Linked DNA regions of Homo sapiens. The protein of the gene in region 3 interacts with the protein of the main gene of each other region in a pairwise test. Each region holds a gene or a part of one and is shown on either strand. Other genes may lie near its edges. The genes, in order: CASP9, EPHX2 and HSD17B4.

Region 1 (3,652 bases), on a different chromosome or scaffold from region 3:
TCTGTTTGTATGGGGCAGATACAACTGAGGCCTGTCTCCTGCCCCCAGACATGAGGTAGTCCAGGCTACCCACCCAGACTGAAAGGCAAATCCAAAACAATAGATGGCTCTGGAAACATTGATCAAAACCTGGGGCCTGCTATCTCAAAGGCAGGAAAAAAAACAAAAACAAAAACAAAAAACCTGGGACATCCAAAACAGACCTCAACACATGCTTTTCAGAGGAGGGGCTGCCAAGATTCAACCTCCTGAAAACCTCCCAGAATTTTGCCATCCCTATGAACATTCAGAAAGACAATGCTAAAATTAAATTCTGAATCTCAGCCCACCCAGCTGTACTCATAGTGAGTCCCAAATGACTACGTGTCATGCCCACCCACCAATCACTCTCTTGCTACTTACCGACATCACCAAATCCTCCAGAACCAATGTCCACTGGTCTGGGTGTTTCCGGTCTGAGAACCTCTGGTTTGCGAATCTCTGGTCTGAGCACCACTGGGGTAAGGTTTTCTAGGGTTGGCTTCGACAACTTTGCTGCTTGCCTGTTAGTTCGCAGAAACGAAGCCAGCATGTCCTGGCCTGTGTCCTCTAAGCAGGAGATGAACAAAGGAAGAGCCTGACTCCCTCGAGTCTCCAGATCTATGATCAGCTGCCTGGCCTGATCCCGCCGAGATCCAGAGCCTGCCCGCTGTTTGGAAAGAAAGGCAGGATACTAATTATCCACGTACTTTTATATGGCTCTCACCTTGTCTCCCCATTTCCCAGCTACTGTAAGTCTAAACAATCAGGCACGTGGGCAGCAATGGAGCTGCAGGTGCACTGTGTGCCATTTACCAGCCTTTGCTGATCTGTTCATTATTTTGCAGGGCAAAAGATGCCCAGCACTATGCTAAGTGCTGAAAATGCTGCCATGGACAGTCTCAGTCCTTAAGGAGCAAATTTCTAATGGGGAATGCAATCAGACAAATCAGCAATGACACAACAAGAGACAAGTGCCCAGAGGGAAGCACATGGGGCTGAGGATATCATGAAGTGAATAGCGAATTCAGAGTCTTATGAGGTGGGAGGTAGATAGTGGCAAGGGACAAGGCCTTTGTGTGGCCAGGCCAAGAAATTCATCCTGAGACCTGTCAGGTGCCACCAAAGAGTTTTTTGGTTTTGTTTTTGTTTTTTTTTTTTTTTCTTGAGACGGAGTCTCACTCTGTCACCCAGGCTAGAGTGTACTGGTGCAATCTCAGCTCACTGCAACCTCCAACTCCAAGGTTCAAGCGATTATCCTGCCTCAGCCTCCGGAGTAGTTGGGGTTACAGGCACACACCACCATACCTGACTAATTTTTTTTTTATTTTTAGTAGAAACAGGGTTTCACCATGTTGCCCAGGCTGGTCTTGAACTGACCTCAAGTGATCCTCCAGCCTTGGCCTCCCAAAGTGCTGGGATTATAGGCATGAGCCACCGTGGCCAGCCATCGGTTGTTTTTTTGTTTGTTTTTTGAGGAGTCTTGCTCTGTCACCCAGGCTGGAATGCAGTGGCACCATCTCAGCTCACTGCAACCTCCACCTTTTGGGTACAAATGATTCTCCCACATCAGCCTCCCAGGTAGCTGGGACTACAGGCACCCACCACCATGCCTGGCTAATGTTTGTATTTTTTGGTTAAGACAGGGTTTCACCATGTTGGCCAGGCTGGTCTCAAAACTCCTGACCTCAAGCGATCCACCAACCTCAGCCTCTCAAAGTGCTAGGATTACAGGCGTGAGCTACCATGCCCGGCCACCAAAGAGTTTTAAGAATGGAGTGACAGAGACAGATATGGCCTTTCAAAAAGTCATCCAGGGGTCAGGGTGAAAAATGGAAAGGAGTGAGCCATAGCCAGATCAGGAGGCAGCAAAGATGGTGCAGCTAGAATAGAGAGAAGTGAAAGGACAAAGCAGAGATACAAAGAGAGAGGGTCCATAGGACATGGGCACTGACTGGGGGGACTGTGAAGACAGAGCAAGGGTCAAGGTTGACAGGCAGGCCAGGCACAGTGGCTCATGCTTGCAATTCCAGCACTTTGGGAGGCTGAAGTGGGAGGATAGCTTGAGCCCAGTTCGAGACCAGCCTGGACAACACAGTGAGACCCTGTCTCTACAAAAAATAACAAAAAAAAAGCCAGGTATGGTGTCACGCACCTGTAGTCCCAGCTACTCAGGAGGCTGAGGCTCCCAAGAGGATGGCTCGAGCCCAGGAGATAAGGCTGCAGTGAGCTGTGATAGCACCACTGCACTTCAGCCTGGGTGACAGAGCAAGACCCTGTCTCAAAAAAAAAAATTGAGAGGTGTCAGGATGGTGGGGTCAGTCACTAAGAAGGAAGAGTCTGGTTATCTGCCACCTGTCCTCAGATACCCAGCACTGGACAGGTTCTCAGGATCCACAGGGATAAGATGGCACCGTGTCCTCAACTATCCTACAGCAGCACTGTCTATGAGAACCTTCCGTGATGATGGAAATATTCTTGGTCTGTATTGTCCTATTTAGTAACCATATATCACATGACCATTAAGCACTTGGGTAGTACAACTGAGGAACTGAATTTTTGTGGGCGAAAGATTACCCAGGTGCCGAGGCAAGAGACTGAAGCCACAAACTGTTTCAGTATAATAAAGAAAATAGTTAGAATAAGAATAGTCATAATACAAATTAGGTATAGAGATGATCATGGACAATTATCAATCATTATTATAAACATTATTAATCATTAGCTTTTAATATTACTCTTTGTTGCATTGCTAATATAACTTAGGAATAACCGGCGGGTATAGGGTCAGGTGCTGAAGGGACATTGTGAGAAGTGACCTAGAAGGCAAGAGGTGAGCCCTCTGTCAGGCCCGCATAAGGGCCGCTTGAGGGCTCCTTGGTCAAGCGGTAATGCCAGTGTCTGGGGAGACACCCATTACTTAGCAGACCGCGAAGGGGAGTCTCCTGCCAGGCGCGGTGGCTCACGCCTGTAATCCCAGCACTTTGGGAGGCCAAGGCAGGCAGATCACAAGGTTAGGAGTTCAAGACCAGCCTGACCAACACGGTGAAACCCGTCTCTACTAAAAATACAAAAAAATTAGCTGGGCGTGGTAGTGCGCACCTGTAATTCCAGCTACTCAGGAGGCTGAGGCAGAACAGCTTGAACCCTGGCTGGGCGCGGTGGCTCAAGCCTGTAATCCCAGCACTTTGGGAGGCCAAGGTGGGCAGATCACGAGGTCAGGAGATCGAGACCATCCTGGCTAACACGGTGAAACCCCATCTCTACTAAAAATACAAAAAATTAGCCGGGCGTGGTGGCGGGTGCCTGTAGACCCAGCTACTCGGGAGGCTGAGGGAGGAGAATGGCATGAACCCGGGAGGCGGAGCTTGCAGTGAGCCGAGATTGCGGCACTGCACTCCAGCCTGGGCGACAGAGCGAGACTCCGTCTCAAAAAAAAAAAAAAAAAAAAGGAAAATAGCTTGAACCCGGAAGGTGGAGGTTGCAGTGAGCTGAGATCGTACCATTGCACTCCAGCCTGGGCGAAAAAGTGGGACACCACCTCAAAAAAAAAAAAAAAAGAAAGGGAGTCTCCTTTCCTTGGAGGCGTCAGGGAGCACTCTGCTCCACCAGCTTCTTGTGGGAGGCTGGATAT
Region 2 (3,752 bases), on a different chromosome or scaffold from region 3:
TTAAACTAACCAGTCAGGGATAGTACAGGATGCTGCCTGGCATTTACAGGAAAAGGCTTCTGAAACCAGACAACACCTTTCAAATTCTTATACCAACCTCTGGAGTTGGGTGACTTGGCTTCTCCCCTTTCTAGGTCCCGTGACAGCCATCTTGCTATTACTCACCTTCAGTCCCTGTATTTTTAACCTCCTCCTCAAATTTGTTTCCTCCAGGATCAAGGCCATCAAGCTACAGATGGTCTTACAAATGGAACCCCAAATGAGCTTAACTCACAACTTCTACCGAGGACTGCTAGACTGACCCACTGGCCCTTTGACTGGCCTAGAGAGTTCCCCTCTGGAGGACACTACAACGGCAGGGCCCCTTCTTTGCCCCTATCCAGCAGGAAGTAGCTAGAGTGGTCATCACCCAGTTCCCAGTAGCAGGTGGGGTGTCCTGTTATGAGGGAGGATTGAGAGGTGAGGCCAGCTGGACTTCCTAGGTCGAGTGGGGACTTGGGGAACTTTCCTGTCTTACAAGAGAATTGTAAAATGCACCAATCAGCGCTCTGTAAAACGCACAATCAGCAGCATTCTAAAAGTAGCCAATCACGGGGAGGATTGAAAAAAGGGCACTCTGATAGGACAGAAATGGAACATGGGAGAGGACAATAAGGGAATAAAAGCTGGCCACCCCAGCCAGTAGCGGCAACCTGCTGGGGTCCCCTTCCATGCTGTGGAAGCTTTGTGCTTTCGCTGTTCACGATAAACCTTGCTATCACTCACTCTTTGGGTCTGCGCCATCTTTACGAGTGTAACACTCACTGCGAAGGTCCACAGCTCCATTCTTGAAGTCAGCAAGACCACGAACCCACCGACAGGAACCAACTCTGGACACAACTATAGCCTCCAACTCCTGGGCTCAGGCAATCCTTCTGCCTTAGCCTCCCAAGTAGCTGGGGCTACATGCATGCACTAATGTCTAGCTAATTTTATTTTTATTTTTGGAGAGACAGGGTCTTGCTCTTTCACCCAGGCTGGTCTTGAACTCTCAGCCTCAAGTGATCCTCCCACCTTAGCTTCCCAAAGCACAGAGATTACATGCCTTTCCCTCAAGCTACTTGCCATCTCATCTTCCTTACTATATTAAAAGCAAAGGCTCCGGACATGGACTACTGGGGTTGGATTTCTGGCTCTGCTCTTTAACAGCTATGTGATTTGGACAGCTGGTTTCTTTCTGTGCCTCAGTTTCCTCATATGTAAAAGGAGGATATGAACAATGGCTTCCATGCCTGGCCTTCTTTTTCACTTTATAAATAAGTATACTTCTCTCCTTTCTGAATGTGGGAATAATACATTGTTTATAAATTTAGAAGTTGGAAACTACAAAAAAAAAAAACACAAAAAAAAGAGAGAGAGAAAGAAAATCATTACATTATTCCTAATCTCATTTGATGTACTTTGGCCTATTTCTTTCAGGCACTTTTCTGCATGTACCTTTTTTCCATAGCTGAAACCATATTGTATAAATAGCTTCAGATTCTGGTGGGGTGGTTTTTTCATGTAGTAGAACAGGTGTTTTCCCAAGTCCCTGAGCTCTCACTCTGCACACCCCATCTACCATTTCCCAGTGATGTGGCTTTGGGCGGTTGCTGCAGTTTGCTATTACACAAGTAAGCATGCAACCCACACCTGGGGAGAGAACTTTCTTCTCTCCTGAATCTCGGCTCGCATCTTTAAGCGCCACCCCATTAGACAGGAGGCAGCAGAAGCACAAAGCTCCATGAGTAACTCCTCTCCCTTTTGGAAAAGTTCACAGAAAGCAATTTTGGAGACCTTGGCAACGTTTAATTATGAACATTTAGAAAGACAACGGATCTCCTCATATGCACTGGGACTTCAGGGCCAGGTCTTCAGTTTCATGATTCGCATGATTCGCAGGGCTCCGGCACAGGAGCAATCTGAAAGCTGGGCTGCAAGCCCAGCGCGGTCTGCCTCCTGAGGCCCCGACCCACTGCGGCGGCGGCGCTGGGCCCCCTTACCTGGGCAGCGCCAGGGCCTCCTCCGTGCGGCCGAGGACGCCGAACACCGCTGGCAGCGCCAGCACCCCGTCAAGGTCGAAGACGGCCGCGCGCAGCGTCATGGCGGCGGGTCTGCAGCCTAGCACCCGGACACGCAGCTAACCTGGGAGATGCGCGAAGGCCAGGGCGCATGACCCGCCCAGCTTGGCCCGGCTCTGCCCCGCCCCTGCCCTGGCCCCGCCTCCTCCCCACACCCCCTTAACGGGACTCCGCCCTCTGCCCGGGTTAAGGCTGGACTCTGGCCGGGAAAGAGGCAGGGGGAGGGGCACAGGAAAGGGAGTCAGAGGGAGAGGAAGAGGAGGCCGGGAAGGCGGGGACCCCAGGCTAGAATCTCGCCTCTGGATGTAACGCTTTCTACTGTCTCAAAGGAAAGTCCAAAGTCTCTTATGCCCCCTCCCCACGCCCCTGCAGTAGCTGCTTGAAGAGGCAAACCCAGGCCCGGGCCTTCCTGGACGGACTGACAGCTCCCTGCGAACTTGCTGGACTTGGAATGCCTGGGAAAGAGGCCACAGACTCTGTGTGTGTGTGTGTGTGTGTGTGTGTGTGTGTGTGTGTGTGTGTGTGTGTGTGTCAGCACATCCAGTGACTTCTACATTCAGAACATAAGACCGTGTTGGGGGGCGGGGGAGGGGCATATCCAGTGACTTTTCTAGATTCAGAACGAAGGATCACAGATCCCTCACTATCCTGACCACTCCTCTAGGCACGCTCTTCTTTGCCAAGGCAAATGTGTTTCTAGAATAAAATATGATGTTCCAGCTATCGTGTGCCAGCCCAGAATACTTCGATTTCAATCTCTTGTGGAATGAAGCTTAGAAGAACTAAATGTAGGCTATTATTTTCCTTTTGTACATGCTACTTGTAATAATTCTGTCTTAAAATGTGCGAGGTTTGTTTTTAATCACCGATTTCCACACTATTGGCTCGTTTATGTTCCTAGAAAAACTAAAACTTTGGCTGGGAGTTCTTGAGCTGTTGTAGTGCAGCTCCATGAATTAAAAACCGTGTCTTTGGTGGAGACCAAACAGAGTGAGTGAGGTCTCCAACAGTGGAGAATTTACTCTTGAATGTGTCTCTGTGGATTTATCCAAGATACCCTCCACCACGGAGCTTCAAGAACCTTGTGAGGGGTTGTCAGATACCTCACTGTAACTGGGAGGTCTACAACAGTCTCTGGATCTAGCAATCAACAACAGGATTGACCAGAGCCGTGGGTTTCCTCTGGGCTGTTTGCCCTTAGCAAGCTATGCTGTTGCTTCCTTCTCTAGCTTGGTAACCTCTTCCAGGCTCCTGCCTGGAGCAGTTATTAGTGTTTTCTGAGATTCTTGCCAAAGAAGCAGAGAGTGGCCAACACTGCCAAATGTTACAGGAAGAACTGAAAAAAAAGCTGTCCAATTTTGGACTTGGATGACACCGGATGTTTCAGAACACTTTTTGTGGGCCCTTTATGGTAGAAACTGGATTACTCTGGATTTGAAGACTGAAAGATAGGCAGAGAAGGGAGTACAGCAAGCTAGTTTCTCATGAAGTTAGTTGATCTCAAAGGTATAATTGAATTTTAAAAAATAGAAAGAAAATTGCAGCCTGACCTATATAGTATGAAACCTGTTAAATCTCCAGATTGGGCATGGTGGCACACACCTGTAATCCCAGCACTTTGGGGCTGAGGTGGGAGAATTGCTTGAGGCCAGG
Region 3 (3,652 bases):
GTATATAGTAACTAACCATGGGAGTGTGAATGAAACAGCAAACTGCCCAGCACATATTTCTTGTCTTCCTCCCAACTTCATGAAACACTCTAATAAAATAAGTGGCCATCAACTCAGAGCAGCAATGGGCTAACTGATCCACCAGTAAATAAGTTCTCCAATCAGTCAAAGTTACAGATACCAGCTCATAGCCCCATGATTCAAAAATTATTACCAGGCTCATAACCTGAATCTTACTCCAAGAAATAAAATATACCCTGTCTCAAAGAACTTCTCACCACTGTTCCCTCCTCCTTCTTGACACACTTCATTCATTTGGCTTCTCAAATACCCTATTCTCATGATACTCCTCATACCTCACCAACCATTCCTGTGCAGTCTCTTTTTGCTAGTTCCTCTGTATCTCTTTACCCTCTCAACATTTCAGGGCCTCTAAACTCAGGCCTCTTCTCTACTTACTCTCACACATTAGGTGACTTCATCTAATCTCCAGTATTTAAACATCACGTAAATGCTAAGGACCCAGTTAGACCCCTCCCTGAACTCTAGACTCATATATTCAACTGTCCATCTTATATTTCCACTTAAATGTGTAACAGACACCTCAAACATATTTAAAACCAACTCCTGATCAACCCCACCTTAAAATAAATGTGTATGTATAAATTATACATAATGCCATATGTAATTACTATACATATTAAATACACTATACATAATTATACATTACATATAGATATGTGTAATGTATAACTATATACAATGTATAACTATATACAATGTATATATATGCACCCATCTCTCTCTCTATATATATATACATATCCCAATTATCCAGAACAAACATCTTCATCCTTGACTCCTCTTTTCTAACCCTCATATGCAGCACTTTTACTTGGATTACTATAATAGACTCTTAAGTGGTTTCTCTGCTTTCATGCTTGACTCCCTTATAACCTAGTCTCCAAAAGCAACAAGCTTGTACCAGTCTGTGAACATAGCCAGATCATGTCACTACTCAGCTCAGATCAACAAATGGCTTCACATGTTCATCAAAGTATATGCTGAAATCTTTACAATTACTCCATGACCTTCTCCTACCATTGCCCCCTTGCTCACTCTACAGCTATGCTGGCCCTATTACTGTTCCAAAAACAAGTCAAGTATGTGCTATTTGCTTTAAATACTCCTCCCTGGCTTGCTTCTTCACCAATGTCATGAGGTGAGGATTATCATATCCATTTTATAGATAAGGAAACTGAAGCCTAGAGATGTTATTTACCCTTGGTCAAGAATCAAGTAAATGGCAGAGAGAGAATAACATTATGCCAGGGTTATGGGACTACACATACTTGTTATTTTCTTCTTTTTGCTGGCATTTTGAACTAACTCTCCCCTCTTTTATTCTTAAAAAGAAAAATCAAAAGATATGCTAAACTAACCACTATAAATAATTATATAAATATATATACACACACTACACACACATATATATAAGATATGACATTAATGAATAATATTTACAGAAATAGAAAAGCAAAATAAAGGTTTTTTATTAGGCATACCTTTGCAAAGTTGATTGAAAGTCCAGGAATTTCTGCTAATCCTCCACCCATCATAGATTTCTGACCTATGATAACTCCGAAGGTGGGCAAACAGGAGAAATCAGAACTTCCTTCATAAATAAATTTCAAATCTTTTGGATCCTTGATTGACGCTCCCACTCCAAGGGCATACATAATAGCTTCCAGTTCCGTATAAGCATAAGAAAATGGAGGGAGTTTCTGGCCAATAGCTCCAGCCTAAGAACAGTTTTAAAAAGTAATTTATTTCATTGATAACTTTTCAAAACTATTAACTTCTTACATACCTAGTTTTGTTTTTGAATAGATGTGACTAGAATGTTAGTGAATTTGATGGAGCATAATTATTGCAATTATATTTTATTTTTTAATAGAAACTAATTAGGTAATGTGTAGAAAAGGACTTCATTTACAGTTAAGAAGTTTTTTATTGCTTGCTTCTTGCTAACAGACAGTATGCCTCATACTCAACTTTCCTGTCTCTAATTCAGCAACTATTAGCTACCCAAAAATCCAAAAAATAATGAATTTGTTATTAAGGATAGTAAATTGCTTGTAAGATCTAATGTATAAAGTTCACTGTAAACAGATGAGTAAAACACTGCTTAATGGATGTAAATTTGATTGCCTCATAATGGTTTCTGTTTGTTTGTTTTGAGATGGAGTCTCGCTCTCTCGCCCAAGCTGGAGTGCAGTGGCATGATCTTGGCTCACTGCAACCTCTGCCTCTCAGGTTCATGCAATTCTCCTGCCTCAGCTTCCCGAGTAGCTGGGACTACAGGCCCGTGCCACCATGCCTGGCTAATTTTTTTTTATATTTTCAGTAGAGACAGGGTTTCACCATGTTGGCCAGGATGGTCTGGAACTCCTGACCTCGTGATCCACCCACCTCGGCCTCCCAAAGTGCTGGGATTACAGGCGTGAGCCACTGCGCCCAGTCCCTCATAATGTTAAGTAAAATAAAATTAACTTGAATTTCCTTCCCAGGAATATCCTTTGTCTAACTGGATGTTGTCTTTTTCTACTTAGTGATAATATGCGTAGCTAATAAGTGAAGTACATATAAAAGAATAATGTCCAATTTTTCAATCATTTTTATTCTAAAGTAGAAGTTGGCAAACAAGGACTAAGAGCTAAAATGGTTTATACAGGTTGATTAAAAATAAGAAAAAGAGAAAGAATATGTACTAGAATAGAAGCACTATGTAGCCCACAGAGCCTAAAATATTTACTATATGGCCCTTCATCAAAAAGGTTTGCCAACCCTTATTTTGAGGAAAAATCACATTTCTATACTGACCACATTCTCAGGCTTAAAATTAGAATTTTAATTTTCTTTATCACAATGCCTACCATAGGTTACAAAACAACAGAATCTAATATGGCATATGATTTACTTCTTCCTATTTATCCAGTACAGTTTTTTTAAGAAAGAATACAAACAGGAACAGTAAATAGGCAAATTTCACATGAGCTATCACAATTGTTCTCGAATTTCTGACTCAATGGGAAGCATTTTACTTGCAGCCATGTTGAAATAGTTCTAAAATACAATATCGATGCTTCCCTTAAAAGAAACGGACCCAAAAGAGCACTAAACTAGATATCCTTTTCTAAAGAGTCAGAAAATGTTACTAAAGTAGGATTACTGATGGTCAAGAAAAAAAAATGATACTTGTCATACAGTTAGATACAGAAATCTAATGGTACTGAAAAAGAAAAAGCAAAAGTTTAATATCTGAGCTTATGTTCAAATTCTATCAATATTTAGTACATATTTTATACAGTTTTATCATCACTCATTTAGCAATAAATAGCTTAGAAAATAATTTTTTTGTATGTGAAAAAAGTTTCAAAATTATTTACATTTCAAACAAAATTTTGCTGATTATAGGCACTTCACTTTCAACATAGAGGTTTAAAGCCTTATGGGCATTAGGTAAAGGGGTAAAAAACACAACAAAGAACCTGGGAGCATATAACCTCCAGAAGTCATGGTGTCATAGTCTCCCCTCCCAAATACAAATTCCCACACAACTCAAATCTACTTAAAGTCAATTTAAAGCTAT

What was found.
Region 1: the proteins of HSD17B4 (region 3) and CASP9 interact in a two-hybrid assay, tested with the Homo sapiens proteins (one large-scale study listed by BioGRID and IntAct).
Region 2: the proteins of HSD17B4 (region 3) and EPHX2 come close enough for resonance energy transfer, tested with the Homo sapiens proteins (one large-scale study listed by BioGRID).

Annotation. Positions count from the first base shown.
Region 1 is NC_000001.11:15,517,708-15,521,359, forward strand, and holds part of CASP9 (caspase-9 isoform alpha precursor), read right to left. Parts: intron 689-3,652; coding exon 403-688; intron 1-402. UniProt on the Homo sapiens protein: Involved in the activation cascade of caspases responsible for apoptosis execution. Binding of caspase-9 to Apaf-1 leads to activation of the protease which then cleaves and activates effector caspases caspase-3 (CASP3) or caspase-7 (CASP7).
Region 2 is NC_000008.11:27,489,579-27,493,330, reverse strand, and holds the start of EPHX2 (bifunctional epoxide hydrolase 2), read right to left. Parts: upstream 2,189-3,752; 5' UTR 2,123-2,188; coding exon 2,022-2,122; intron 1-2,021. UniProt on the Homo sapiens protein: Bifunctional enzyme. The C-terminal domain has epoxide hydrolase activity and acts on epoxides (alkene oxides, oxiranes) and arene oxides. Plays a role in xenobiotic metabolism by degrading potentially toxic epoxides.
Region 3 is NC_000005.10:119,497,467-119,501,118, reverse strand, and holds part of HSD17B4 (peroxisomal multifunctional enzyme type 2), read right to left. Parts: intron 1,803-3,652; coding exon 1,566-1,802; intron 1-1,565. UniProt on the Homo sapiens protein: Bifunctional enzyme acting on the peroxisomal fatty acid beta-oxidation pathway.